4 linked regions of the Homo sapiens genome follow. The protein of the gene in region 3 purifies or fractionates together with the protein of the main gene of each other region. This does not show direct contact. Each region holds a gene or a part of one and is shown on either strand. Other genes may lie near its edges. The genes, in order: LUC7L2, PUM2, CLASRP and GAK.

Evidence for each region.
Region 1: the proteins of CLASRP (region 3) and LUC7L2 purify together in Homo sapiens (affinity purification with mass spectrometry; 4 studies listed by BioGRID and IntAct, with this or other methods). This does not show direct contact.
Region 2: the proteins of CLASRP (region 3) and PUM2 purify together in Homo sapiens (affinity purification with mass spectrometry; 2 studies listed by BioGRID and IntAct, with this or other methods). This does not show direct contact.
Region 4: the proteins of CLASRP (region 3) and GAK purify together in Homo sapiens (affinity purification with mass spectrometry; 2 studies listed by BioGRID and IntAct, with this or other methods). This does not show direct contact.

Annotation. Positions count from the first base shown.
Region 1 is NC_000007.14:139,362,655-139,370,338, forward strand, and holds part of LUC7L2 (putative RNA-binding protein Luc7-like 2), read left to right. Parts: intron 1-7,684. UniProt on the Homo sapiens protein: May bind to RNA via its Arg/Ser-rich domain.
Region 2 is NC_000002.12:20,277,691-20,285,374, forward strand, and holds part of PUM2 (pumilio homolog 2), read right to left. Parts: intron 5,797-7,684; coding exon 5,653-5,796; intron 5,542-5,652; coding exon 5,257-5,541; intron 1,130-5,256; coding exon 893-1,129; intron 768-892; coding exon of another isoform or gene 721-767; exon of another isoform or gene 612-720; coding exon of another isoform or gene 517-611; exon of another isoform or gene 1-516. UniProt on the Homo sapiens protein: Sequence-specific RNA-binding protein that acts as a post-transcriptional repressor by binding the 3'-UTR of mRNA targets.
Region 3 is NC_000019.10:45,055,669-45,063,352, reverse strand, and holds part of CLASRP (CLK4-associating serine/arginine rich protein), read right to left. Parts: intron 6,904-7,684; coding exon 6,819-6,903; intron 5,604-6,818; coding exon 5,455-5,603; intron 4,086-5,454; coding exon 3,989-4,085; intron 2,965-3,988; coding exon 2,886-2,964; intron 2,800-2,885; coding exon 2,726-2,799; intron 1,200-2,725; coding exon 1,158-1,199; intron 1-1,157. UniProt on the Homo sapiens protein: Probably functions as an alternative splicing regulator. May regulate the mRNA splicing of genes such as CLK1. May act by regulating members of the CLK kinase family.
Region 4 is NC_000004.12:928,903-936,525, reverse strand, and holds the start of GAK (cyclin-G-associated kinase), read left to right. Parts: upstream 1-4,209; 5' UTR 4,210-4,338; coding exon 4,339-4,483; intron 4,484-7,623. UniProt on the Homo sapiens protein: Associates with cyclin G and CDK5. Seems to act as an auxilin homolog that is involved in the uncoating of clathrin-coated vesicles by Hsc70 in non-neuronal cells. Expression oscillates slightly during the cell cycle, peaking at G1.

The sequences.
Region 1 (7,684 bases), on a different chromosome or scaffold from region 3:
TAAAGCAGCGACTCTCTTTTTTGGAAGTGGGGTTCAAGGTGGCAGTGACCCCCTCCACTCTTAGTGTCCTGTCTGTGAAGGAATCTGAAGTGGCACAGAGTCCTGGGGCTTTGGGAAAACATTACCTCCTCACCCCCTCAAGGTTTCTTCCCCCTCCCCTTCCTGACAGTTTTTAATTAGTTCCTTTTAAAATTCATTGGAGATTTAAGTCTGTTAGTTAAATATACCTTAACTTGAATTACATAAAGTAGTTAATCATTTAGATTACCTAAACTTCACTGGAATCCTTAGGAGTAGGAATTTTGTTAGCAGGGAAATGGAGAGGTAATTTTGGATCACTGGGCACTTCAAGAAAGGACATTCCTGGGTGAGTGGTGGAAGTTGGGGGCTTTAGACAATCTGAGGGCAGCATGATGGTGCCGGGAGGCTGGGCAGGGGGACTGCCAGGAGGTGGGAGAGAAATGCATAAGGGAGGTGGGAGGGCCAAAGACAAACTCTGCCTTCTTTGCAATTTTGCCTAGGGCCCTGGTGGTGGCAACCGCCTGTGTGCCACTGAAAATCGTGCCGATGCCTGGCATACTGCATAAATGGAAGCAGGGTACCGCGTGAGTTGAAACATTGGTCACACTATATAAAGTTTGTATATGTGAATCAGTGTAACTCATACCCATATAACTGGGGGTCTGACTGTATTTGGATTTTTCTGATAAGGCATCATGGGCTAAGGAAAAGAGCACTGGGCTGAGACTCAGGAGACCTGGTTTCTAGCCCCAGCTGTACCTCTAATTGTAACCTTGGGTAAGTCACTTAACCTTTTTTGCCTCAAGTTAAATCTGTAATTTGTTATATGGGAAACCAAATAATTTCCTATGTTATACTCAGAAATGTTGAAAAATAAATATATTTTAAGTTTTTTTAGAAAGGAGCTATAAGTAGATAGTAATTACTAGTTTATTTTATCTTGTTTATGATTCATTACGTTTTATAAATATCTTTCTGTTTTAGTTGTTAGCAGAGGGGAGAGGGATAATTTGTTTTCCCTGAACATATTCATTCTATTTGAAAGCAGGGAGGAGTTGCACAGGAAAATCCAAGAAACAGTTTGAGAATTGTCTGTGTGACAGTTGGAAGAACCCAGTACCCTCACACAGACTGTGATTTTTGCTCAGTTGGATTAATTGCAAGGATGTTCCTTAGCTAAAGCCCCTTTGCCAACAAACACAGTTTGGTCATAAGTCTCTAGTCTTGATCCCAGGAAAGTCTGGGAAGATGCAAGCAATAAGAATTAAATAAAATTGAGGGTGTGGATTTAGATTACATCCTTTTTTTTTTTTTTTTTTTTTTTTTTTGAGACAGGGTCTCTGTTGCCCAGGCTGGAGTGCAGTGGCACGATCTCGGCTCACTGCTACAACCTCCACCTCCTGGGTTCGAGTGATTCTCCTGCCTCAGCCTCCCGAGTAGCTGGGATTACAGGTGGCTGCCACTACGTCTGGCTAATTTTTGTATTTTTAGTAGAGATGGGGTTTCTCCATGTTGGCCAGGATGGTCTCGAACTCCTGACCTCGGGTGATCCACCATGCCCAGCCTAGATTACATTTTAAGCTTAGAAATTAGGTAAGTTATAGAAGGTAGTTCTGAGGGTTCTGTATCTCTTAATTGCTTATACCTTTAAATGGGAGCAGAGACCACCTTCGAAAGATTAAAATAGGCAGGAATGGCAGCCTGCCCTCCAAAACAACAAGTAGACTAGGAATGTTAGATAGAATTTTATAGCATCATTAATTGTCCCTTATGGTTAGGGACTGTTTCGGGCAAGTTAAAACTTTCAATAATTTTAACTATTTTAAATGTTAATCTTTCTAAATTGTAGGATATACTTCCTCAGTTAACATATTAATCATAATATTTTTGCTGATCAGTTGTACAGTAGTTATAGTTTGTGGGATATAAAACTGAAAGGATACTCATCCTCATACCCAGGAAAATACTGTTAAGAAAGCCATTTACTTGTTGCTAATGTAAGGTTAGTAGTACATAACCGTGTAATCTGTAAGATAGTATGACATTTCTGCCTTTCTGCAAAATTACTGAATCAAAGTTTGAAGTAGTGCGTTCTTTAATGGATTTTATTTATAAAATCATCTTTACTGTAATCTGTGTTCCTTGACTTTTCATCAACATTGAAAACATTTTCTCTTAATTTTTTCTCATTAACATAATGAACCATATTCATTTCTTGGTCAGTTGTGAGCCATTCTTTTATTCCACTTGGATTGTTCATTTTAAGTGAAGGAGGCGGAGCCTTTAATGTATACGCAGACATTTTTTAAATAATAACAGGATATTTCTTAGTCTAGAGCTTGTAAATTCTTTAATATAAGGAGTTTTATAGGATTAAACAGTAGTTTCTCTGCGTTTCAGTTAACTATTTAACTTTATCAGAGTTTCAGGCATATCCAAAACACTGAAAGCACCTGCATAGTGAATCAATGAAAAAAGAAAAGTTTTCCTCATTTTGCATTTTGAACTCTGAATAATATTTCTATCTACACAGCAGCCCAGAAAACAATAAAAGTATCACTTCATATAACATTGCATCGTTCCTGGATTCTCTACAGTTGTTTAGTTCTCCTCAAGTAAGCATATGCTTCTGAGACATTCTTTTACTTCAGGTAAATATAAGCAAAACAAAGAAAAATCATTTTGTCTATTTCTGCATCAGTTCTATAAGGAGCAAGTAAATTCTTTTATTTTCGTTTAGGTTGGATGTTGTCATATAAGGATAGATGGTAGTGTTCAACGTGTTCAAGATGGGTAGTAGGAATTCAATGGCCATGAGGTGTCATGGATCAAGGTCAGGTTTAGTGAATCAGGTACTCTTCAGTAACAGGTGGTTCATACAAAGCATTGAAGCTTAAAGTTGCTGTGAGTTCAGCAAGCAGGAGGGTTGAGAAGACAGGCAGATGGTTTAAAACTAAAGGTCAATAAGTGGGCAAGACTAGTTAAATGAGGCAGATACTCCCCAAAGATGGAATTCCAGAAAGGTGCTTGAAAAGGACTGAATTCTTAAAGCCTACTGCTGTTAGTATGTAGAGTTCTTGAGGAAACAAGCAGTTTGGCATAACTTAATCTACTAAGAAACTATAAGAAGGTGAAGGAAGTTGGAACATCTTACTGGAAAAAGAATGAGGGAGTGAAGAGGGAATCTTGTGAATTCAAAACTTGCAGAAAAGCTATTCTGTTTCCTTTTTGTTTAGGTTCTCATGCACTAGCAGCTGCTAGAATAGATATTGGAAGGCAGGGCCAAAATAGGTCAGTTGTTCAGTTTTGCAAGATTATTGAGGATATAGAGAAATTAATTTGTGAAAACTCTGAAATCATCTGCAGCTCCATGTTTTTGTTTGAACTGAATAACTTAGGACTTTGAGAAGTCAAAGCCGTCAGAAAGTAACATGAAGTCCATTCAGCTGAATAAATGTCATATTTTGCTATTAGCATAGAAAAGAATCTTTAAAACTTCTTTCCAAAAAGCACTCAGTATTGACCCATATGTTCCAGTATAGTTGTGAACCATGTACAACTGATGTTTGACTTATTTGACTCAACATGAAAGGAATTTAACCAGCTGCCCTTGCTGAATCTTGTCTCCTGAATATGGTAAATGGTTTTTGTTTTTAATCTTAATACCTTAGATTTCTGCAGACCCCAGTTTTCTCTTTTAGAGTTAACTGATAATTATTGGATAGTATCTATAATATACCTGGCTGTTCTGTTCTGTACTGTGCTCTAGTATTAGTTTAAATGGTAGACTTTTCTCTTAAAGTAACTTTAATAGTTTAATAGTTAAAGTTACTTGAAGGTATGTTTTAGATCAGGGACTGGCACTATGGCCTCCTGCTTTTGGTAAATAAAGTTTTATTGGAACACATCCATGCCGATTCATATACATGATGTCTATGGCTGCTTTGGCTTACGACAGCAGAGCTGAATGGTTGCAACAGAGTCATATGGCCCGCAAACCGAAAACATTTACCATTTGACTCTAACAAAAGCTTGTTGATCACCATTCTGGTTTAGTTATTCTAAACCAAGTGTGGTCCTTGGAGCAGCAATTCAGCATCACCTCAGCATCACGTCGTATTGTTAGAAATATAAATTCTTGGACCCACCTACTGAGTCAGAAATTCTGGATATGGGCCCCAGCAATCCATGTTTTTAGAAACCTTCCAGGTGATTCTGATACACATTAAAAGTTTGAGAAACCCTCTTCTAGATCAGTGTTTCCCAAATGTTTGTCACACTTATTGCCTTTATTATTATTTATTTTTATTTTTTATTTTTTGGAGACAGAGTCTCTGTCTCCCAGGCGTGAAATGCAGTGGCCTGATCTTGGCTCACTGCAACCTCCGCCTCTCGAGTTCAGGCGATTACCCTAGCTTCCCGAGTGGCTGAGATGACAGGCATGCACTGTCATGCCCTGCTAATTTTTGTATTTTTAGTAGAGATGAGGTTTTGCCATGTTGGCCAGGCTGGTCTCAAACTCCTGACCTCAAGTGATCTACCTGCCTTGGCCTCCCAAAGTGCTGGTATTACAGGCGTGAACCACCATGCCTGGCCTTGCCTTTATTATTATTTACTGTTTTCTGTTTATTTAATATTTTCCTTTATGTCAACTCACTTTCTAAAAATTTTAAGTTAATTTTAAAATGAAAGTTTATACCACCATAAAAATAAATACAATGAAAACAAAATGGTGTATTATGTAACTAGACTCTTGTCACTTAGGGTTCCTGTGCTAAAAATTAGAAGTTGTTAAATTTATTAAACAAGTACTGTTGCAAAATGGGAACTTTTTTTCTTGACTTAATTGTGATTAATAATTTCCTTACTGAGTGGTATTTAAAATGTCTTGTTGGCAAAATCATGTAACACCTAAAGTCATCTTTTGTGCAAATCTCATACTTTGGAAATTACTGTTCCAGGGAGTATTCATGTGAAAGGAAAGCTGTTTGAACTATATATATACCTAAGCCTGTAAGCAGAAATGACTGGACAGAAATACAAGCCTGTGAGACAGAGAGATCTAGGAGATCCCTAGAGAGGTCCATCAAGACCTCCAGGATGAAATTACCTCATTTAGCTCAATTTCTCACCTCTCCGTTAGTGCTTTGGTCCACGGGGGTCAGTGTTTCTGCAGGATTTCACCAACTGGTTCCACAGTGGGAATGTGAAGAGGTACCTGGCTGTGGGAAAAGCTGCTTATCAAAGAGAGGCCTGATAGAAATGCTAGGGAAAGTGGCTGTGAGCCTGCATTATGGACGGGAGCAGAGCGGCAGGGCATGTTGCTAGGACTAAGCAGTCGATTCACGTGAGTCTGGACACCATGTATAAATATTTTGAAAACTTCCTGTTACAATTTAATTTACTCCATTGTGTTAGAGGGAGTGCTTCCCTGCACATGGTGTTCTGTATATTTATTGGTTGATGTGCTTTAGGGTATAGTAATTATTTATAGCAATAGATTGATACCCAGGTTGCAGAGTTGCTTTAGTTATATCTTTATTTCCTTTTCTTAGAGATTATAGACATAATTTGCTTCTGTCATCTTTTGACCAAAAATCTAATGGGAATGAAGAATTACACTTGAATGTTTATTTTTAAGTAATAAGTTCTGTGATAGTGATTATAGGTGTCTGCATTTAAAAAAATGTTTTAAAAAGTACAGAGGTCAAACAAGCATCTGTATGATTGAACAAATGTTATTTCGTATATTTCTGTCAAATTTTAAAAAATGGATAAAGAGGCCGGGCACTGTGGCTCACGCCTGTAATCCCAGCACTTTGGGAGGCCAAGGTGGGTGGATCACCTGAGGTCAGGAGTTCAAGACCAGCCTGGCCAACATGGTGAAACCTGTCTCTACTAAAAATATAAAAATTAGCCAGATGTGGTGGTGGGTGCCTGTAATCCCAGCCACCCGGGAGGCTGAGGTTGGAGAATTGTTTGAACCCAGGAGACGGAGGTTGCTGTGAGCCCACATGGTGCCAATGCACTCCAGCCTGGGCGACAGAGTGAGACACCGTCTCAAAAAAAAAAAAAAAGTAAAAAGTGCATAAAGCATTACAAATAAAGTCTTTTGTGGTCCCCTTCACCGTCTCAGTCCTTTCCCCAGAGGCAACCCTTTTTGTAAATTTGTTGCATATTCACTGTGAGGCAGTATTTCTGCTGTGTTGTTTAGTTTTAAGGCTCACGTCTCCTTCATGGTGATCTGTTTTTCATTTTAACTTCTTCCTTTATCATTGGGTTGTCTATCACCTCTGTCCCTTGATATTTTCATCTTTTTTTTTCTTTTTTATTTCTTTTCCTTTGGATTTGGGGAGGCTCTAGTTGGCTTCTGTAGCTATCACCAGCTGATGAGAACTTGTCTTTTTTAATAGATAAATCAGCCAGTTACTTTTTCTTTGATTATTTTCAGCTATTGCTTGATAGCCAAAGATAGCTTTCGTTACTTCTAATTTTGTATATAGAAAGTTCTGGATGATAGAAGGCACCGGCTATCCAGAGTGCAATTGTTACTATGTCAGAATTACAGCTCTGCAAGTAAGTATCAAAATATAAAATTTAGCAGGCTGTAACTTTTTATGCCATATATCTTAAAATAAATTCTATATAACCTATTTTAGGACTTAATGTTAAAGTAACTATTCAGGCTTTTCTGATGTCTCTTGTAAATTTAAGAAGAGGAATAGGCTGATAGATTTCCTAAAGCACATACCCCCCAAAACATGATAGCATTGGTCCCTGCCAGCTACCAAGACCCTTTGCTTGTATTAATATAATGAGAGAAGATAGGTGCAGGGCATGGAATAGAGCCTTGGAATGGAGATTCTTTAGTATTCCTGTTCTCACATTTTCATCATCACCATTCTGGTTAGCTTCAAAAGATCCTACAAGGTTTTTCTTCTACTAACAAGGCTGTTCCCCAGTTTCATTCTTATAATCTTGTGATATGGATTTTCACAGACAAGTGGGCCAGATTTTTAACATTTTAAAAACATTAATCTTTGATCATATCCAGCAAGAATGAACTTGTTCTGGAGATTTCTTCTACAGTGGGCATCACATTTTAAAAATGTTTGGCTTGTCATGGGGATTATGGTGGGGGGTGATACTGGTACCTATTTCTGATTATAAACTTATGGGACCATATGAACCAGAAGATTAAGAAGGATAGCTTTTCTGAGCTGTATAGCACCCTTGTGTTTACATTTTCTGGAGGAAAGGAAAGCTGCTTTGTTTTATTAGGAACGACTTGATGTCACATTTGGAAGGCAGACTGTCATAATTGTTTTTTCCCGTTGCCATCTTTGGCATAGTACTCTTTCTTCCCTTTCCTTATGTAATAAATATATGCCTGGAAAGTTTTACATAGATCAAGACATATTAAATGTTTTCAAAGCATCTGTATTATTATGTTAAGACATGGTGATGAGTCCTTTTGTAAAATGAACCCTATACTTTGGATGGTTTAAATATACAGTGGGTTAAACTGAGTGTATATATTAACAGGGGAACATGTAGCAAGGGAGTAATGTTTTTTTAAAAGGTTAATTACAAAAGGATTTGTATAGGTGGATTTTAAGCTGAATTCTAAAGGAACAACAAAGGTAGGTGGGAGAAGTTGGTA
Region 2 (7,684 bases), on a different chromosome or scaffold from region 3:
TACATCTGCTTACAGTAGCAACATTACTTTTTAAAACACAAGCTGATTTAAATCTTTCCAATTACATAAAAGCTGGCAATAGAATCCCTCAGTTTCAGCTGAATAACTAGAATTATAAAAATTCAAAATAAAGTTTTAAAAAAATAATTTCTTTGACAAGATAGGGATTCATACACAGCCCCTGATATCCAAAGCCCTTCAAAACGTATTATCTACATGGATAAATACTTCCTGGAGAGGGAAAAAAGGTAATCACCAATTTAATAATTTGGGGGTGGGAACAATTTTAATATACAAATATAAACAAAGTTCTCAATGCTCCAACTTCAGGGGTACAACAAGCCTAAAACATTTTTTTTCTTTAACATATCCAAAAAAGAAGTATATGGCCCAAGCCTATAAGCTTCCTTAAGTGACAAATACACTAAATTCAAATTCACTGAAATAATTATCTGGTAAAATGGCCAGGCATAGAAAGACCAAAGCAAAAACCAGTGTACTAACCTAGTTCAGTAGCTATGTAACTAATGTTTTTCTTATGGTGTGCAAATCTTTTGATAGTGAAATTTCTCTTTCACTATTATGTTTATATAGTTGACTTTTCAGATGCTCTAAAACACACAAATCAAAAGCACAGACAAGAAAAAACACACCATTATATTTCATAAAAAAAACATAAGAAACAATAGGGGGGTCTTTACCTTATTGTACATTAGACCCTCACTTTGAATTTTCAGGAAAGTAGAACTTTTTCAAAAGACTAATATCTAAAAGCAAAAGCAATTTGGCATGTTTTAACCAACATTAAATATTTTACATATATTATAAACACACACACAAACACACATACATGTATACATACAAATAAAAAGGGTTTTGGTTTTTTTTTTACCTAAATGCAAACTGGATGAGGATCCATGTGATGAAAGTGATGGCGGTGGCGTAAGTGAATGTCCTGGAGTTTGGCTTGGCAGAGGCATGCCTATTGGACTTGGAGAGGAGGAAAATCCCAGACTATTGTAAAATGGTTGCCCTATGGGTGCTAGGCTGCTACTAGATCTTTTGTACAAGTCAGAGCTAGTAGATAGAGACTCTCTCCTTGTGGCACTACTACTTGCAGAACTGCCAACTGAAGAAGAAATAAAAAAAACCCTAATTACATACAGTGTTAACTGAATAAAATCTATCCCCAACTCTCGCTGGGCAATAACAGAAGTGATCACAATAATTATTTTTAGAAACATTTTGGAGAAGATAATTACTGTGATAACTATATATACTAACTTATTAATCATAAAAGGGTATAAATGCACCCCAATAAAGAACCAAATACTTAACAGAGCAGTCATATGATTCATTATTTCACACATATTTACCACTGACACATCTGATTACTGTGCTTTAATACCCTGGTATGATTTATAAACCCTGGAATTGCAAGTTGTCTGCATTAGGACATGCTAGAGATTAAATTCCATTAAGTTTAAATTCTGATAGTATCCTAATCTCTGAAACCTGCTTCTTAGACTTTAACTCAATGCCAAGAAAAGATTATATGAATAAATAATTAGTACATTTCCTTCACCATTCATATTTAATTTGTCATCTAGCTGTGTTCAAAACATAGCCCTTTAAGTCCATATTGGCCCGAATATTGATCAGTTGTGAAATACAGTGAGCAGCTAACTCAACAGTATTTTTTACACTACGCATTCTCCCTTGTTCTTTAACTACATTACAAAGTAACTCGACTTTTCTAAAATTAATAGCTCTCACTGTTATCAAACCAAAGACATACTTTCACTTATCCCACAGGACTCTTCTACTCCTAAGATGCTAGTACTACTGCCTCCTGAGCCCCTTACTCAAGGCTGATCAGGTTTTTGTCATTTGATAATACACAATTTCTCTTACTTTACATCCCTTAATACAATGCATACCAAATTTTTACTTAATATCAAATGTAACTATTATCCTTCTAATCCTTTTTCCTTTTATAGTGCAGAAAATAAAGGTCATGTAGGCCCTGGTGAGCTATACATGCTCAGAAGAGCTAATCAAGATCTGGCTGTTAATCAACACCTGTCTGGATAATCAAATTCCACAGCATGCATCTCTAAGGGCTGTCCAAACTCTCAGTTCTCAAGTCTCACTTAAAGCCCATATATTCAAGTACGTTTCCTTCCTATTTCTAAGCACTAGCCTCTTTTAACTGAATAACTTTTACATCTAAGAAAATTTCAAACCACATTTCTGAACCTGCCAAATACATTTTTAAATGACAAGCTCTATATTCGGACCAATATGGCAATGCTTTTCAAGGGATCTAAGTTTCTATTAAATCTTATTTAAGCACAAGTCATATATAAATAGGTCATACAGGGTATAAAGAAAAAAATTAAGGAGAGTACATCATGGGTAGACCAAGGTAAGAGTATAATACAGACGGAAAACTTAATTACGTTGGTTTTGCCAAATTCAAAATTCTATAAAGGGGTAAAAAAACCAGGCTTATGCTACCACATTAGGCAAAAGATTATAATGCTATTCAACCTTTTATACCAGCCAATGCAGTTTCTGAGACTGATCATGTTTTGTTGAAGATTTTACATTTTAAGATATCATAGTAAGAAAATACTAGGTGTCTATATGCATTTTTATTGCAAAAGTGAATTATAAGCACATGTAATAAACAGTTATTCTTGAGTTGGTTTTGGTAAAACTGGCAATGTATGCTACATTAACTATGCTAATTTAAAAGGACACTGTCAAAGTGATTTTTCTAAAATATGGCTACATTTTAAATTCCTATTTATTTCAGAAAACAATTTAACTGACAATGAAAAGACAACAGCTCTAATAAGAGCAGCATTATTCCCCTGACAAATAATCCAAGAAACCAGTTTTGACACATGCAATATTATTTTCCTCCAAAAAGGAAAAGTCAAGCCAAACATTTAAAAATAATTCAGAAATAACCTTAAATATAAAGAAGCTGGCTCTTTAAGTTTTACTATATGTCTAAATTATCTCCAACAGTATGACTATGAGATATGAAACAAAGTGTACCTAAAATATCTAAGAGGGTAGACAGACTGCTAATCATTCATCGACTGTGAAAAAAGGCTAAATTATAAACTTTCAATTGTAACAACACTTTAAAAAATAACAGGTCATAGAAAAGATGATTTAAATTATATGTTACGATGTTTAGGCTTCTTGGCCAACTATATCATAAAATGGGGTATTTAACACTGTTAAACATTAATAATTTCATCATAGAGGTAAGAGAAGGACTGTGTATGTTACTTGTATATGTGTATACAGGCACACAACCATATTATGTTTTAGAGCTCATGTAAGTATGTAATTGCCATAATGTGAAAAGGCAGTGTGCAAACTTGTAAGAGTCCATATATATAGCACTTGAAAAAACTCCCACAAAATGCCCAAGAGGAGAGATACGATGGACTCTTTACTGGCATTCAGGGGTGGCAATCACTAATGCTCTCTAAAGCAAGGTAAAATGAAGCTCTTACAGATTGGAGTCAGAATTAAGTAAGCCATGCTTGTAAATAATGGAGGTGTGAAGGTTAGTTTTGGGGAAACAGGGCATCTGTAGTGGACAAAATGTTCATGTCAATCAATTCCTGAAAGGGGGAAAACAGCCTTAACTAAGAAACAAATGGAAATTTGAAAGAATTGAGTAGGGGCCTAGAAATCTGAACCAGACGATCAGTGACATACTACGTGAGAAAGGAAACATGGGGTTTAATCAATGCTCTCTTTTTTCTGAATTATTTAGGGCCTACAATTTATAATTTAAAAACTATTTCCACAAGTTTGTTTTTTATGTTACTTGTTCTTCCAGTTTTCCTCAGAATATTTAGGATTCTTTGGAGAAAATGTCCCAATTGTGTTAGAAACAAGGAATGAGTCCTATGGGAGTGCGTGAGGTGGACAAAGAGATACACAACTCCAAAAGCAATGAAAAAACTCAAGTACAAAATTGAAAAGATTTAACAATCCCCATGTTCACTGGATTTTCCCTCAGAAATTCTTATGAGCAGTCTTCAGATAATTTTGTGTCAGTCCAATATGACATCCACTTATTGTATTTCATTACAATAAATGAAAAAAGATTCTGCCATCTAAAAGTTTGTGGCTGTTCTAGACCATCCTTCCTGTATATATGAATGATAAAAGTTCAGAAGACACTCCCTTAGAAAACTGGCAAGCATTGTTAATAATGCCTGGCATGTGTTAGTTCTGCCATTTTCCACACCAGAAAAGAATATAATTTGATGTGGTAAGAAAAGAGATCAGAAACAGATATTAAGGACTGTAGCAAGTTATGTTATAGAAACAGAAAATCTCTTGAGGTCCAAATAGTCCTATCCTCATGAAGTAAAAGCTGCCAGCTGCACCGATAGAACTGGGTCAGCTGTTTTTTCCCTAATGTTTCCTGAGTACTGTGGAAACCTCACAGAAAACACCAAGTGTATCAACAAGAAGTCAACGTGGGCCTCTTCTGATTTCACTTAGTTCTTCCTCTACCACAGGATCCAGGAACCAGTTTGAGTGGGTCAATTATTTAGTGAAGCTATTTAAAATTTTGATTTGTTAAGTGTTATATAAAGCTAAGATACATGAATAGATACCCTTTTAAGTGAATTTTTAGTGACAAAGGCTAACTTATTTAATCTAAAAGATAACCATACTGGTAGCTTCTTAGGGGATTCTGTGTAGAACATTTCAGTATTTATACATACACATATGTATTTTTTATATTAGGCCAAATTTAAAAACTGTAATAAACTACCAGCATTTAATAAGAATAAACCATCTAATAAGGACACAAAGATAACTGCTTTAAAATACCAAAAATTTAAGACGGCAAAATATTTGCCTCCACAAACATTATGTAGTGAATGAAGATGAGCTAATAATTAGTGAATAATATATTGACCCAAATAAACCCTACTAAAACAAAAATTACAGTAATCAATTCCTAGAGCCAGGGAAAAAGGAAATGTATTATATATGAGTAAAGAACAGGCTGCCTATAGTGAGTTAAACATTGGTGAGTGTTGAAAAGATTTGCAGGATTTTTTTTTCCTACAAATTAAACCAGTAGTCCAATACTTTATTCCTGTCCTTCCTATCCTACATGCTATTATTGCTTATTTTAATGTTAAACACACTCATATACCTCTTCCACTTAGCAGAGTACACTCATCGTAAAAACAAACTTACCTGATGAACCAAATCCACTGAGGGCTGAGCCTATAGCAGCACCCAAAGAGTTACCACTTCCAAAGCCAAGAGATGTACTTCCAGGTTGACCAGGTCCATGAGAAAATAAAGAACTACTCTGGGAGCTATTAGTCAAAGAACTGCTTCCATAAAATGAATTAGATTGCAGATTAGTGCTTGGCTGCTGTTGCTGCTGCTGTGGTGGCTGAGTGCCAATTGGCCGAAACAGACCATTTGTGCTGCCTGTAAGGCTACTTGCAGTTCCTCCAGCTGCTGCTGCTGCTGCTGTAAAATAAATTTCAGATACTTCTTTAAACCACCCAGAAAATTCTGTATTTTAAAAATGGTATCTCAACACCAGAAAAATATTATCCTAAAAATGTCAGTTACACTTACCAGCTTGTGCTGCTGCTGAACTAATTAAAACAGGTGTTGGAGCCATTAACCGAACTGGAGCTCCAAGGCCAGTCCTTGCTCCAGGGCCAACCACTAAGGCACCAGTCTGATCATAATAGGCAGTTGGAGCTAGTACTTGATAGCCTAAATAAAATAAAGGTTTACTAATGAAAGCACTTATTACAAAAACATGCATATTTGTTTTTCCCTGCATTTGTATTTTTTCAACTAGACAACACAGCTATTTGTACCATTACTATAAAATCCTTAGTTAATATATGCAAAGCAACACATTTGACAAGGTCTTACTAAATATATGAAAAAGTAATAGACTGTCATTAAACATTTTTTCTCTAAATTTTACTCAGGGGCCACAAAATGAAGAGGTATTTTCCTTAATATAGAAACTACAGGCTATGAAGGAAGGGCTGATATTAGAAAAAAAAAATCACCATTTAGCCCTTCGAAGAAGAAGGATTAAAAAAACTGGGAGTAGCGAGGTAGAACACTGTACGAAATGTTTACTGTGCAATTTCATTGAAGTTCAAAATCAAGTGCCTCATTACCAGCATTCCGTTAGATTTTCATTTGTAATCATCTCTTTAAAAACTTAAGCCAAACATTCTATTTGTGAAGATTCTCAAGCTAGAGTTTAATTAAAAATCACACAGGCTTTAGTTTTATTGTAGCCTTAAGCACAAGGTAGGTAATCTTCACAAATAGTGGAGAATAAAGTTAACTTCTTAGCAGCCTTTCTCAATGGAGATTCTCTGTTGAACCAAAAACACAGAAAATGATTTAAGTAAGTATTTTGTTAATTCTCCTAAGGATGGTATATAACAAGCATCACTCTGGAATCACAGGAGAGAAGTTAGCTATATACACTGTGGATACTTCAGAGCAGTAATAAGGCTTTATTCTTTTCTGGAACTCAGTTTAGAAAGGCTGCCTTATAAAGCGACAAAAAACTGAGGCCCAATAACCTTACAACTATCAGCAAAACATGCATTGGCAACTTTTTTTTCCCTTAAAGAGTGCTGTCTTGCTCTGTTGTCTAGGCTGGAGCACAGTGGCATAATCATAGCTCACTGCTGCCTCAAACTCCTGGGCTTACATGATCCTCCCGCCTCAGCATCCTAAGTGGCTGGGACTACAGGTACATGCCACCAGGTCCGGATAATTTATTTTTATTTTCTACAGAAATAGGGCCTCACTATGTTGCCTAGCCTAGTCTTTAACTCCTGGGCCAGCGATCCTCCCGCCTCAGCCTCCCAACTGTGTCTGGTCCTTTAAGAAGTTTTTAAAAACACAGACTATACTGAAATACATTCCAACATCAATTTTTAAGTCTTATTTTGTTAATACTATGCAGAAGTGAGAGTTACAGTAAAATTAGTGATAATGCAGCATGAACATTTTATTGCCTTTAAACACAGTAGGCTAAATTCAGCTCAAATATAATAAACAGTGCTCAGATAAACACTTCACCTGTAAGACACACATGCATAGGTTGTTTTTAGTAAATACAGTAATTCTGATCAAGAATAAGCATTAGCACGCTGCTAATAAAATATCCACATTACTAGTAAATTTCAAACTGTACATGCCAGTCAATAGTCTTAACTGGTATGTGTGGTCTAGTCCTAAATCCAAGGCACACAGAAAACATTCTTGTTCAAAAACATTGTCATTTACTTAACATCTGAATTTGAATTAAAAATAAAAGTAAATCCATTTGGACATTTGGCTATAAACACTCTACTGACAAATCAAACAGCACTTAACTGCTCCTTAACTAAATTTTGCGTATATAAATTCCCAGAGAGGAAATAACCCACAGTCAACTCAACTCTGAAGTCCTGTTCATTTACCTTCCAATCTTTCTCAAATCCATCCATTCTCTTGATGGCTACTTTCCTGTCCAACCAGATTATATGGTCTGCCCTTGCTCTTTTGTCCCATGTCTGTAACACATTCTCCACAGAGACTGTGGTCTGAGATTGATATAAAAAGATATCAATCCACACTCTTG
Region 3 (7,684 bases):
ACACTGAGTGTGGTGCAATTCTATTTTAGTAAAATAAAAACAAAGTGGCCAGGTGTGATGGCTCATGCCTGTAATCCCAGCACTTTGGAAGGCCCAGGTGGGAGGACTGCTTGAGGCCAGAACTTCAAAACCAGCCTGGTCAACATGGTGAGCCCCATCTCAATATTTTAAAGAAAAAAAAAACAAACGTGTTTTTTAATATATAAAATTTTAAAAATAAAAAGAAAGTATCTGATATTCCTGACACTCCCATGTATGGAGCACTAACCTACACCTTTTATTTCCCCAGAAGCCATTCAACACCTTATCTCATCTAACCTCGACCCACAGCCCCATGAGGAAGATCCCATTCCCACCCCCATTCCGAAGAGGGAACTGGGCTTCAGAGAGCTATGGAGCTTGGATGAGGGGGACTGGGATCAGACTGAGCTTGGTCCCTCACAAAATCCCTTCTCCAACCACTCTTTCATCCACGAGACAACGACCTGTGCCCAGCGGTGCTACTGAGTGCCCGTTATTTCCCACTGGCCACTTCTGGAAATTGAGATTAAAGTGACTTGATTTCTCAGTCACACTGTTTTGCCATATTTGGTCATTTTTACCACAAGGCTGCACTGTATTTAAATCAGAAAAATAAAATAAAGAAGCTTCAAAGATAAAGAAAATTTTATTGGCCGGGCGTGGTGGCTCACGCCTGTAATCCCAGCACTTTGGGAGGCTGAGGTGGGTGGATCACGAGGTCAGGAGATTGAGACCATCCTGGCTAACACGGTGAAACCCTACTAAACTCTACTAAAAATACAAAAAATTAGCCAGGCCTGGTGGCGGGCACCTGTAGTCCCAGCTACTCAGGAGGCTGAGGCAGGAGAATGGCGTGAACCTGGGAGGCGGAGCTTGTAGTGAGCCAAGATCGTGCCACTGCACTCCAGCCTGGGCGACATAGCGAGACTCCGTCTCAAAAAAAAAATTTTATTTAAAACTGGGAAAACAAGACAGTGATCTGGAAAACACAAAAATGATTCAGACCCAGAACATATCATGCAGTCTGTGATCTTGGGGTGGCCTAGCAGGGTGAACCTCCCATCCCCTCCTCAGCACCCCTGTCCCCATCAGGAGGCTCCCTGTCTGCTATTCCCTGGTCCTCCAGAGCAACTTACCGCTTATAGGGGTCATAGGTGGGGCTGTCTCGGCGGGCATAGCTACAGAGAAAAGAATGGGGTGGGACAAATTAGGGCTTAAGATCTCAGCAGTCATGAATTTGGGATAAGCCCGCCAACCTGAGGACCCAAAGCTAGGTACCTGGCACAGTGAGGGGGCTGCTGACCAGGTTGGGGGCCTCCCCTTAATTCCTCCACCCACCCCCACCTCAGATCTGTCCAAAGCATGAACTTAAGCCCCACCCTACAATGTCCTAGACCCATCATGACTCTGAGGAACTTGGACTTCAGCAGCTCTGGTTCTGCTTGGCCTCCTGACCCTAGAATGAAAGCATCCCTCCTCCCAATCCTTGTCTCTGGCTCTCACTGGGTCCGGGCTTACTAATGATGATGATGATGATGATGATGATAAGATTAAAATAGGCTGGGTGCGGTGGCTCACGCCTGTAATCCCAGCACTCTGGGAGGCTGAGGTGGGAGGATCACTTGAACCCAGGAGTTTGAGACCAGCCTGGGCAACACCGCAAAACCCCATCTCTACTAAGTATTTTTTATTTTAATTAGCTGGGCGTGGTGACGCATACCAGTAATCTCAGCTACTAAGGAGACTGAGGTAGGAGGATCGCCTAAGCCTAGGAATTTGAGGCTGCAGTGAGTCGTGATTACACCACTGCACTCCAGCCTGGGTGACAGAATAAGACCCTGTCTCTGGGGGAAGAAAAAAAAAAGAGAGACTATCACAGCTGAGGAAACTGAGGCCCAGAGAGGTGAAGTCACTTGTCCAGCATTACGTAGCTCATAAAGGAGGAAACTGGGATCCAAACCCAGGCCCTATGGCCACCCAGCCTGGGCGTTCCTGCACTACCCTCTGTGTGCCTCTGTGCCACCGCTGACAGCAATGACGATTGGTGCTATTCTTTAAGGAATGTTTCCGATACCAACCGCTGAACCTACAAGTTGTTTAAGCCTTACAGGAACTCTCAGTCACTCTCCTTTAAGAGATGTGGCAAAAAGAGGCATGGGTTTGCACAGGGCCTCTCCTCAAGGCCTCCTGACCCAGGCTGGGCTTTCCTCTCCAAGCCAGCCTGCCTCATCCAAACCTGTCCCAAGACCTCCCTGTGGGGACTGCCCAGCCCTCTCTCCAGGTAGGTGATAATGCCTTGTTTTCCAAAGGAAAAAATTGAAGCTCAGAGAGTTCGGGAAGTCACTTGTCCAAACTCCGACACAGGAAGAAGCCAAGCAGCAGAACTGGGTGAGAGTCCAGGGCAAAGCCTGTGCCCTCTCTGCCGCCTTGGTGAGAGCCTTATGCCGCCTGTGCATGGGCTCCTGGGAGTCTGGCAAGGGCCCCCAGTCCAGTAGGGTGAGGGGAGGGGCTGGCAAGGAAAGGAGTCCACATGGCCCTCAAGGCCGTTCCTACCTCTAAACCTTCACGATGGCCATGCATCGCCCCACTAGAAAGACTCCTTTCTCAAGTCAAATGCCTGCCTCCAAAGAGCTTTCTCAGGCCCTAAGCCCCTGCTCTCCTCCCCCAGATGCCAGCAGGGTGGGGGTTCAGGGAGAAGCCCTACCTGGGTGGGCTGATCTTGCGACCCCTCAGCCGCTTCTCCCGAAACTCTCTCCGCTGGCGTCGAGAGCGGCGTCCCTGGAGTAGGGTGGGTGCCAGGTTGGTGAGGGGGTGCCCTCCCTGTGACACACCCCTGTCCCCTTCCACTCCAGCCCAGACCTCACCGAGTACATGGCCTTCTCCTCCTCAAGAGCCTTGGCATGCTTGATGGCCTCTGCCTCCTCCTTGTCTTTCCGGAGCATCCTATAGAGGTGGGTGAGAATTAGGGTGGAGGATGGGGCAGGCCACAGGGTAAGGAGGACACAGACTGAGTCATCAGAGAAAGTGAGGGACCTGAGTCACCCCACGCCAGCCTGAGGTATCTTTCATTCAATGCCACTTATCAAGCACCCTCTGTGTGCCAGGTGCTATCTTAGGTATCAAGAACTGAGCACTGAAAAAAAAAAACAGAAATCCTCACCTGCACGGGCTTACATTCTAGGGGAGAAGATAATGAGCAAGGGAATAAAATGTGTGGTCCATTAGATGGTAGAGCAAAGGCAGAGGAAGCTGCAGTTTTCAAGAGGGAGCTCAGGGAAGCCACACAAAACAGGGTATCTAGAGAAAAACCTGGGGGAGCAAGCTGCAGACGTCCAAAGCGAACAGCAGACAGAGTGGCCCAGGGGCTGGCCCAGGCCTCTGCACTTGAGGAGCAAGGAGACTGTGCAGGCTGGGCAGCGGGGGATGGTGGCGGTTGAGAGGACCAGATGGGTAAGACCTTTCGGCCATGGTGAGGACACTGGATGTTCCTGAGGGAGGTGGGAGCCACAAAGGGCTCTGGGCAGAGGGTGCCATGCTCAGGCTCCGTTTCTGGTTCACTGCCCAGTGAGCTGGGACCATTCTGTGTGGTCTTGTGAGCTCAGCAGGGGGTGTGGCTCAGGGTAGAGGTACAACCAGCAACTGCCAGGATAAATAACCAGGGAATGAAGCCTCTCCACTAGAGGGCGCTGTCCCCCAGCCTAGGAATCCCCAGAGCTTCGAAGAGTCAGATTCGCCCCAGGTCGCACTAAGTAGGGCAGGCTGGGTGACTTGGGTGCAGCCTGTTTCTGCACAGATGAAGTGGGGCCACGACCACCATAGGCTCAGGGACCTGCATGTGTAAAGTCCTGGGCCCAGGGCCAGGCACACAAATGCTCACAAACAGGATGGCTGTCAATACCGGGAGTAATAGTGAGATGCCAGGGTGGGGCCCACAGAATGGGTAGGGGTGTCAGCAGGCAGGCCTCACCTGACGAAGTCACCGTCGGCCATGCCATAAGTCGTGGCCTGTTTGTTGAGATCTGCCACCTGCTCCTGGTTCAATTCATCCACGTCCACCTCCACGTCTGCACCAAGAGAAAGGCTGTCAGGAGCCACGGCCGAGCGAGAGGACAGGGGAGAAGGGGCAGTGCTCCAGGAGGCGGGGATGATGGGGCGCCCGCCAGACTGAGGGATTCTTCAGGAAGGGATGGCATCAAGTCTGGCTCATCTTGGCATGCCCTAGGCTGGCACTGGGCTTGCCAGAGGTGAGCACAACACACAGTGGACAGAGGCAGCTCGGGGACAGGGCTTGAAGGGGCAGATGAACGGAGGGAGGGAAAGAGAAGGGAGAGATGGACGGATGGGTGCAGGGATGGATGAAGGGATGCAGGGATGGATGGATGGATGAATGGAATGGAGGCAAGGAAGGAAGGAGGGATGGGTGGATGGAGGGAGGGAGGAATGGATGAGTGAGGCGTGTGGTGGGGTTGACGTGAGAGGGAGGACTGAACAGGGGCGGAAAGATGGCGGCTGGAGATCACGGTGGGTGGCAGGCAGGGTGTGGGTCACAGGTGTTTGGAAGCAGGGCGTGTGATAAGCCAGAGGAAGGAGGGCTGGGCGGAGGTCAATGTGTGGCTCCACAGAGTGTGAATAAAGAGCCAGCTACTGGGCTGAGCGCGGTGGCTCACGTCTGTAATCCCAGCACTTTGGGAGGCCGAGGCAAGTGGATCACGAGGTCAGGAGTTCAAGACCAGCCTGACCAATATGGTGAAACCCCCGTCTCTACTAAAAGTACAAAAATTAGCTGGGCGTGGTGGCGTGTGCCTTTAGTCTCAGCTACTTGGGAAGCTGAGGCAGGAGAATCACTTGAACCCAGGAGGTGGAGGTTGCAGTGAGCCAAGATCATGCCACTGCACTCCAGCCCGGTAACAGAGCAAGACTCCATCTCAAAAATAAATAAATAAATAAATAAAAAGAGCCAGTTGCTGGAGTAAGAACCAGGATGAGAAAAACAGAGAGACTTGGGGGTGGTTTGATCAGTGGGAATCCAGAGGGGAGGTGAATGGCAGAGAGGAGGGTGAACAGATGCCTGGCGGATGGGGGCTGACTCTGTAAGAGGATGAACACTTGTTTTCCAGAGGAGGGAAGAGAGCAGGAGAGAGGGGCAAAGGCAGAGAGAGGCCGGCCCAAGTGGAGGAGAATGGAGCCAACACCTAGGAGGGGAAAAGATCATAGAAATAGCACCCTAGAAATGAGAGATGAGTGAGGCAGAGGAAGGCCGGAACGGAGGAGGACAGGAGTGAGACAGGGGCAGCAGGAGGCTGGTGTGCCCTGGGGCGGGGTAGGGAGAGAGACACGGTTCGTAAGCACGGGGTGCCCCACAGAGGGTGAGGGACGAGACACAGAAACGATGCCCAGGGACTGCAGGTGGGGAGGGCAGAGAGGGGACCCCACCGATGTCGGGGATGACCTCATCTTCGTCCGAGTTGCTCTCCTCCTCGGCCGCTGACTCCTCCTCCTCTGGCTTTTCTGCCGCCTTCTCTACCTCGGCCACCGTGCTGTCCTCGTAGGTATAACCGATGGAAGCCTTCTTCTCTGCCAGCCTGAGAAAGGGGAGCTGGTAAGCCAGGGCCGTGCCCAGTGGAGATGAGGGCCCCAGGCTAGCCCCACACACCAGTCTCGAGTGCCACGGCCCCCTCCCCTCAGGCTCTCCCTCAGCCTAGGACCCTCTGCTCCTGCCCACACCCAGCTCCTCCCTCTTCCTCCACATCTGAGCTCTAGGGCCCCACCTGCCAAGAAGTCCTTGACTGGTACCCTAGGGTGGGTCAGCACTGTCCTGAGCTCCCCAGCCCTGCCTTTGTTGGGTCATCTCTGTTGGGGAAGGTCTGTCTCCCGCCTAGACCATGAGTCCCACAAGGGCACAGCCCAGAGTCCTCCTGAGCAGCCAGGTGCCCCAGCTTTGCCCTGAACAGAGCAGGGCCTGAGCAGGATCCTGAGGCTGGGGCCGTGGACGAGGGCTGAAGTCTCCAAGAAGCTCCCAGTACAGTCCCATGGGACCCCTCCCAGTGGAGGAAGGCGGCAAGCAGTCAGGGGTAGCAGGAGGGAAGGTGTCACTGAGGGAGCTGCCCAGCCCCGAGCCAGGGCTCCAGGCTACCGTGCACCAGGGCAACAGCAGCTGGCCTGGAGGAGAGCTAAGCCCTGCAGAGGGAATAGCGTGTGTGAGGGCGGGAGGCCTGCACTCATCAGACTGAGGTGGAGAAGAGAGAAGTGAGACTGCTCGGCCACTGCTCCTCAGAGGCAGCTGCTCCAGGATAAGGCCCGGGTCTCCCCAGCTACTCCTTGAGGGACGCGGCTTTAAGAAGCCTCTCTCCAGAGTGACATCAGCTAGGGCTGACTGCAAGCTCACTACATGGCAGGTGCTGGAATAGGTACTTCACAAGCCCCATCTCCTGCATGCCTCCCAACTCCAGGCAGTAGGGCCTCCTGCCAGCCCCATTTTACAGGGAAGCACAGCAAGGCTCAGACAATTCCCACTCAGGGCCTCACAGCCAGGACTCAAACCCAGGGCTGTCTCACCACAGGGCCTGCACCTCCCACCACTTCCCAAGCTGAAAATGTAACGCAGAGCCCTCGGCAAGCCGGGGCCCCCTGACAGGGCTTCTTCCTCTACACAGTTATTAATTGAGCACTGACTGTGTGCTGAACACCATCCTTGGTTTCGGGGAGACCCTGGTGGACAGGATGGAAGAGGCCATGCCTGGCTGGGGCTCCCAGCCCTCCTGCCTCCTCAACCCCCTGCACCCCAGACCCCGACTCACTTCTTCTTCTCATCTTCGCTGGGTCTCTGGAGGCCTCCGTACAACTCATCAATGTAGATCTGGTACAGGCACTGCTCCTCTGAGACTGCAGCAAACAAGAGACCCCAGGTCAGAGTGGGTTGGGGACACTAGGAATTCAGTGGGGGAACACAAGGGTGCGGTGGGGCAGGAAGACAGGTGCAACCCCAGTGCACCTTGGGGGGCAGTCACCACTTCCAGATAATCAAACTATGTCTGGTGGGACACAAGCAACTGCAGCAGAGCCTTGGACACACGACCTTGGTCAAGGGACTTAACACATCTGTGCCTCAGTTTCCTTTTCCGTAAAATGGGACCACGGGCAGAGTGAGTGCCTGGCCTGGTACTTGGGCACTCTACCACCATTCTCACTGTTTCTGGAGGCCTCTGGCTGGACCCTTCAGAACCATAACCTGCTCCTGAGTGCCACACGCCATTCTGACTGCACAGGTCACTCCACTGCATGCCTCTCTGTGGCTCATTTTAAGTTAGGTGTGGGCTGGGATGACCTGGGCTCTCCTGCACCCCCAACACCCAGCCTGGGGGACTCAACAATGTACCAGAGCCTTCCTGATCTTCCCTGCAGTGAGACACGTGTCCCTGACTCGCTGTGGGACAGTGGGTTGTAAGTCCCCTTCCTTCCTTCCCTCCCTAGGCCTCAGTTTTTCTTTTCTTATTTTTTTAAGACAGAGTTTCACTCTTGTTGCACAGGCTGGAGTGCAATGGCGCGATCTTGGCTCACCGCAACCTCCGCCTCCCAGGTTCAAGCGATTCTCCTGCCTCAGCCTCCCCAGTAGCTGGGATTACAGGCAGGCGCCACCGTGCCTGGCTAATTTTGTACTTTTAGT
Region 4 (7,623 bases), on a different chromosome or scaffold from region 3:
ATATTGGTAATTTGTGTCTTGCCTTTTTCTTGTTCAATCTGGCCAGAGATTTTTCAATTTTATTAATCTCAAAGAATCAGCTTTTGGTTTCCCTGATTTTCTCTATTGCTTTTGTTATCTATTTTTTTGAATTCCACTCTGATACTTATTATCTGCCTTCTTATATTCACTTTGGGTTTCATTTCCTCTTACTTTTCTAGTTTCCTTTTTTTTTTTTTTGTGACAGAGTCTCAGCTCACTGCAATCTCCACCTCCCGGGTTCAAGCAATTCTCTTGCCTCAGGCTCCCAAGTAGCCGGAACTACAGGCGTGCACAGGCATGCACTGCTACACCCAGCTAATTTTTGTATTTTTAGTAGAGATGGGGTTTCACCATGTTGGCCAGGGTGGTCTTAAACTTCCGACCTCAAGTGATCTGCCCACCTCAGCCTGCCAAAGTGAGCTACCGTGCCCAGCCAACTTTTCTAGTTTCATAAGGTGATTGCTGAGGTCACTGATTTGAGACTTAACATTTAATACTGTTTTAGCTGCATCCCACCAGTTTTAAATGCTGCATTTTCATTTTCATTCTGTTCAAAATACTTTCTAATTTCCTTTTTGATTTCTTCTTTGACCCATGAGTTATTTAAAAGTGAGTTGAAAAAATATACAAAAAACAAAAGTGAGTTATTCAGTTTCCAAATATTGAAAGGATTTTCCAATCTGTTACTGATTTCTACTTTAATATTCAATATCATTCTGGTCAGATAACATACTTGTTTAATAGAACAGAATATGATCAGGCTTAATGTTTTAATGCACTTGAAAAATTGTGTATTCTGCTGTTATTGTGGGGAGTGTTCCATAAACATTCATTAGGTCAAGTTGGCTGACAGTCATGTTCAAGTCGCCTATATCCTCAGTGATTTTCTGGGTATCTATCCTATCGTTTATTGAGAAAGAATATTCTCCAACTACAATTGTGATTTTTCTCTCTCCTTGCAGCTATTAGTTTATGCTTTGTGTATTTTAGAGCTTTGTTATTAGGTGCATAAATGTTTAGGATTATCAAGTCTTTTCGATGAATTCACCCCTTCTTCATTACAAAATGATCCTCTTAATCTCTTGCAATACTCTTTGCTATGAAATTTAGGAAATCAGTTATAGGGATTAAGACTATAACTTCAGTTTTGGATATATACATGTTTATACATGTAGCAGTATCTAAGAACAAACATCTGAGAGTTCAGATGAGATATGGAGATAGATATTTGGGTTAAGATGGTGTTACTATAGCATCTACTTCAATGCCAATAAATAAAGGTGCTCCAGAAATATTCGTAAGATAAGTAGTCTGACTCTGGTTTCCAAAGTGATTACAAGGTTTAGAAATGTCCAGCTGATCCCAGGTCATGCCAGTATAAGTTCATGGCCTCCAGATGAGTGCTTAAACGCTCTCATGCTTTCCAGTGAGTTATTTGCTAGGTTTCTCATAATAGCTATTTTAGATCTTTTTGACACTGCTTAAATCTTGGGTTTCCTACTTCCCCTCTCACTTTCAGTTGATGTTTTTCTTTCCTCATTCACAATGAAAACAGAAGTCATTAGAGAATTCCTTCACCTTCATTCCAATAAATACATAAGGTCACCTACAACTGCAGCCCATTTTTCTTCCTGAGTGTTTTTCCTATGTCCAAAGCAAATATCTCTACCTATGCTCTTGATGTCATTCCCCTCCTATGTTCTAAGAGATAGAAGATATCTCATTAAGATAGAATTATCTTATTATTCCTCTTTTTTCTGTACCAGCAAACCTTCTCTCCCTTCCATCCGCTTTAGGCTGCTCAAGAATCTCTCATCTTAAAACATCTCAATACTACATCACCCTTGTAGCTCCCTGGAGCTAAGGGTGCCGAATTTGTTGGCCTGAAGTTGTTCATATTCTCTTCCACAGACAAACATTTTGAGTTATCTCCACTTGCCATCTCTACCTCATCATCTCTTCATCCCTCTACGGTAATATGTAGCTTCCACCTCATTACTCCAATGAAGCTATTCTTGGTGAGGTCACCAATGATCCCTTGTGAATAAATCCAACACATATCTTCCATTTCTTTTTCTACTTGACTTTTAAGTGGCATTCGACACTCTTAGCTGCACTCTCTGCCCCGAACATCCTCGTTCCTTGGCTCTGTTACGACACTCTCTTGGTTTTCTTCCTCCTTCACTGACTGCTCTTTCTCCACAAACTGTCTATTCTCTGAAGATTCTAACCTCTTTATGTCTAGTACACCATCTCTGTTGGTCCTCTCTTCAGCTCCTAGAGCCAACTGCCACCTCTATGCTGAGGATGCCCAGATATCTGTCTCTAGCAGGGATTCTTTCCTGAGCTCTCTATCCTTCTATTCCACAGTCGACCAGACAAACGCACTGGCTGGAAAAGCCATGACTTGCGTTGAATTGCAGTTGTATCACTTGTTGGCCCTGGCCGAATAATGGCATTGTTGAGCATATTTTCTCATCCCAAAATAAAGGGGGTTAATTATACTGTGCTTTCTTCACAAAGATGTTTTCACTACAATGAACTATTACAGAAAAGGGTGTTGTAAGCAATAAATCAGTGCCTAAACTAAGCTATTGCTACTGTTATTTTTGTTATATATATTTTTAAAGATGTCATTTGGCTTCATGCAATACTTCATTCCATAACATAGATAAGTGTTCCAACGAGCTGAGGCTATTATCTTTTAATGATAAAGATAACAGATGTTAGCTTCTGGGACGGCTAAGAGGCTGATGTGAGCTTTAGAATCCATTTTTGAGTTGGAGAACAAATAACTCTGTTGAAGGGGTTGCAACCTTAAATGACTATAGGAACCAGGCAGGTAACATACATGAGCCCATCTGGTCAGGCAAATGACTGTGTCTTACCTCAAGGGACCACTCTAGGTAATTGGTAACACACATCATTTTGGGTCCAATATTGACAGGTTTGATTTTTCCACAGAAGCTGGAAAACTAGGTTTTTAACATTTAGGCCTTTCAATTATTATTATTATTATTATTTATTTTTTGAGGCGGAGTCTCAGGCTAGGGTACAGTGGCGCCCGCCTCCCGGGTTCAAGCGATTCTCCTGCCTCAGCCTCCCGAGTAGCTGGGATTACAGGCACCCGCCACCACGCTCGGCTAATTTTTGTATTTTTAGTAGAGACGGGGTTTCACCATGTTGACCAGGCTGGTCTGGAACTCCTGACCTCAGGTGATCCGCCTGCCTCGGCCTCCCAAAGCACTGGGATTACAGGTGTAAGCCACCGCGCCTGGCATCAGTCTTTAAATGATAGCAACTAATTCACCTCCTGCTACCCACTCCCAACCCCCAAATACTGTGTGGGCCAAAAACTAAAAATGCATTGTCTGTGAGCCATTTCCTTATTATCCTATAAGGAAAGTCACCATTTCATCTCCAAATAGTTGGGCATTACGAACCCTTCCAAGTGGTTCATGAGGATTTGCTTTTGCCTTGGAAAATGTCAGGGTGAGAACGAACCTTGAGGGTCACAGGGCAGTCTCTGCAGTGTTGTGGTTGCCCAGGACGAAGGTTTTTCTAGCCCACGGCTCCCACTACTGGTCACTGCCCCAGGCCAGACCCTGGCCCTCTCCTCGGAAGACAGAGCAATGCAGCAGCGTTTCCCCTGCAAACTGCCTGCCTGGCTGCTGGGAGGGGGCTGCCAACCTTACTCACTAAGCGTCACAGGAAACTCCGACCTCCATGAGACGAAAACCAAGTATTTACTGAAAGCTTAACGCACGCTAACTCCTTGCTCCTTAGCCAACTGAGAGAAAAATTCGCGAACCCATTCGCAAACGCGGCGCTAACAGCAAACGGGAGGCTGACTCCACCCAGAGGATGGCGAAGCGCTTAAACCGGAGACACCTGAGAAGGAGCCTCCCACAAAACAGACCATGTGGGGAACGGTACCGGGAGCTGGACTGGGGCGCTGAACTACCTGGGCGGGAATCGCCTCGGCGACTGTTCCGCGCGCCTCCGCTTGAGTCAGCCCGGCCGGGAGCTTGACAGCCGGAAGTTCATCGCAAGCCCGGCGACGCCGCGCACGCGCTGTCTCCGTCAGACCTCCGCGCCTGCGCGCGCAGCCAGGAAGTGAGGCCGCGGCGGAGGGGACGGGGCTAGGCCGGGTCGCCGCCTGACGCGACGCGTCCTCACGGGCGCCTACGTCACGGCGTCGAGGCGGAAGATGGTGCACCTCCGGGCCGGCGGTTGCTGAGCTGACCCGGACGGCGAGGGAGCGGGAGCCCGAGCCCGACCACTCCGGCTGCCGCGGGGTGCGGCGCAGCCACCGCCATGTCGCTGCTGCAGTCGGCGCTCGACTTCTTGGCGGGTCCAGGCTCCCTGGGCGGTGCTTCCGGCCGCGACCAGAGTGACTTCGTGGGGCAGACGGTGGAACTGGGCGAGCTGCGGCTGCGGGTGCGGCGGGTCCTGGCCGAAGGTGAGGCCCCGGGTCGGCAGCGCGGGTGCGGCCGCGGAGTGTTGTCTCCGGGACGCTGGGGGCAGCGTCAGCCCGGAGTGGAAGGGCGTGGGTTAGGGCTGGGGAGGGTCCCAGCGGGATCGTGGGTCAGGGTCGGCCAGGGGAGGGTCTCTGCCGAGGGCGTGGGTCAGGGCCAGGCGAAGGTCATAGCGCGGGCGTAGGTGAGTGCCTGCTGGCGGTGATTGCGGAGGGCGAGGCTGGGACCGGGTCGGGGTACTTTCTTGTCATAAGAGTAGGGTCAAGTCGGAGCAAGGCCTGGGGCTTGGGGAACCCCCTCAGGGTGGGTGGGGGAAGATGTTACGGTGAGGTGGGGGATGGTGGCAGGCAGGGAGCTTGGGTGGGGACCCACAGCGGAGACTGAGGGACGGTGCCTAGAAGGCCGACAGCTGGAGTCAGGAGGTGAGCGGTGCAGGAGGTGGGTTTAAGCCTTGGCCTTTTGCCGGACATCTGGGGTTATTGAGCAGGCAGGGACAGGACTGGACTTTGGAGGTTAGGGCTGGTTCTTCTACAGTCCAGGGAACTTGAGAGTTGGTGGGTGCACACGTGTTGCAGGTAGTTGCGGTTGTAGCCTGGGGGGTGGGGGGGTTGGCCGAGGGTAGACTGGGCTGTGTCTCGTGATCCCCCTTCGTCTTTCAACACCTCAGTGTTTCTCTTCCCGGTGAACATCTACTCGTGTGATTCCGTGTGTAGTACAGGAAGCAGAGCCAGTGGTTGTGACCTATATAGAACTTGCAGAGTGGACAGGTCACTCGGCTTAAGTCCTCTTGAGTCAGTCTTGAGTCAGTTTTGTCTCTGCATGCTATTTCTAGCTCCCTGGATGTCCTCTCCGTTCACACGGAATCGATCACCAGTGCCAGTGGGTCCCATTCTCTCTTGTGGATTTTCCTTACATTTTTTGTCCAGTGGTGCCTGGAGGTGTGTCATATTTCACTGGCTGTGAAGTTTATGGGCTAAACACAGTTGACTTGGGTGCGGAAGCGTAACTCTATTCTGCTGTATTGGCACAGGGAGAGGGAGTGAAGCGACACAAAAGCCCTCACCCTCACCAGCTCCCTGGTACCTCTCAGGGCTGGAGGGTTAGCCTGTCCAGGTGCCTGCTCTGTGACCAGACAGGAGACTATCCCAGAATTCTGATTATCACAAAAGGCCTGCGGAGACATTTTGACTGTAGCATTATCACACACTTTGTCTCCATTGTGGTCAAAACCAAACAGATTTTGGGTATGATTTGGTCAGAAAGTCTAAGCTCTTCTTTCAGAAGTGGGGGCTGAAGTGTGATATTCTTTCACATCAGTTGGAAGATTTCTCTCAGATCAAATCATTTATTCTGAAAATACTAGGTGGTTATCTTCATTCTTTAAGAAGTTTATTGTGGACAGGACTTGCTTTCTGGAACTTCAGACTTGTGCTCAAGGGGTGGAGAGACAGAGGCAGCACAGGGACAGATCCTTAGGGGTGGTACAGACAGTGTGAGCTTTGGGAAGGGGCCAAGCAGAAGATGGCACGGATCTTGGTGGGAGGGATGGAGAATGCACCCTCACTGGGGCCCGGAGAGGAAGATTCGTATAAAGAAAGAAGCTTGTGGGTCACTTAGCACCCAGGAAGAAGAACAAGGAAATGTGGGCAGCTGCTGAGGTTGTGCAAAAGAACTTGTTTCCCTTTGCTATCTAGGCAAGTCAGGAGATAAAAATAACCAATGCAATTAGGAGCTGTAGATTTCCTCCTTGTAAACTTAATAGGTGGCCTGCAGCCTCCTAAGTACTTTGAAGCCTCTTTGAACTGAAACAGAGTGTGAAAGCTGAATTAAGTATTTTATATAAACATACTTAATTAAGTTTTGTCTGAACAGCAACCTTAGAACATAGGCTATGGGAGTTTAGGCTGTCTTGTGTAAACATGGTGATGGCTGGTAATCTGAACCCTTGAGTACAGATGTTTACACTTCCAGAATTTTTCAGGTTTCAGAATGGTCATTGCAGCATATAACCTGTATATCGTGGGATACTCCCAGAAGACTTGGGAAAGTATTCTGTAATTGAATACATTAATATTTCTGTAATTAAATGAATAAATATTCTCACTGTGGGATAATTAAAGTCTGTAATTAACCCCATATCAGTTCATGTCAGGTTTTATCCCAAATGAGGTTATTATGATAGACCAGGATTTGCTGTCAAGTGAGTTAGGAAAAAATGGTTTTCATAGCTTTTAGGAATTTGGACTTGTGGTGTGAATGGGTTTTTAGGTAGAACTGTGGAACCAGATAGCTTTCTAATTTCTTCAAATTTGTTCTGTCATCTTCCTTTTTTTTTTTTTAATTTAAGAGACGAGGTCTTGCTGTTACTCAGGATGGATTTGAACTGGGCTCTGGATCTTCCTGCCTCGGCCTCCCGAGTAGCTGGGCTTACAGGCATGTGCTGCTGCACCTAGCTAGTCTTCACTTTTTTAAAAGGCAGATTATCAGGAGCACCAACCATGTCAGAGATGCCCAGGGCAGGTGTATGCTGTGTGTTCTTTGTTTTGGGTTCTGCGTGCCGTTGCTTCTGAAGTGGAGCCTGTGGTGCCCTGACTGCAGGGAAATCCACCTTCCCTGTGTGGCTGACTTGAACTCGGGGTTACTGCTAGTGAGATAAATTGAGGCAGAAAAGAAAACGATGCCGCACAGCCGTCGTATGGTTTAAGCGTAACCCGCCTCGTGCGTTTGGTTGGGTGTTGTATGTAATTTGAGCCAGCCCGCAGCCCTTGTGTGCCATGCGCAGTGTTAGCTGAGTGGCTGGGCCCGCTCAGGAGCCTTGGGGGTCAAGCTCTGGCCTAAGGAATGGGGAGGGCACAGCCTACTCCCACCCCCAGGGCCACTTGTGTGTGGTCCTGACTCTCCACCCTTCTTCCTCCTTGACATGGCTTTTGGAGGCTTCCTCCCTTCACTTACTTAGAATGTTCTGGGCCGGGCGCAGTGGCTCACGCCTGTGATCCCAGCACTTTGGGAGGCCGAGGCGGGTGGATTACCTGAGATCGGGAGTTCGAGATCAGCCTGGGCAACACGGGGAAACCCGTCTCTACTAAAAATACAAAATTAGCCGGGTGTGGTGACACATGCCTGT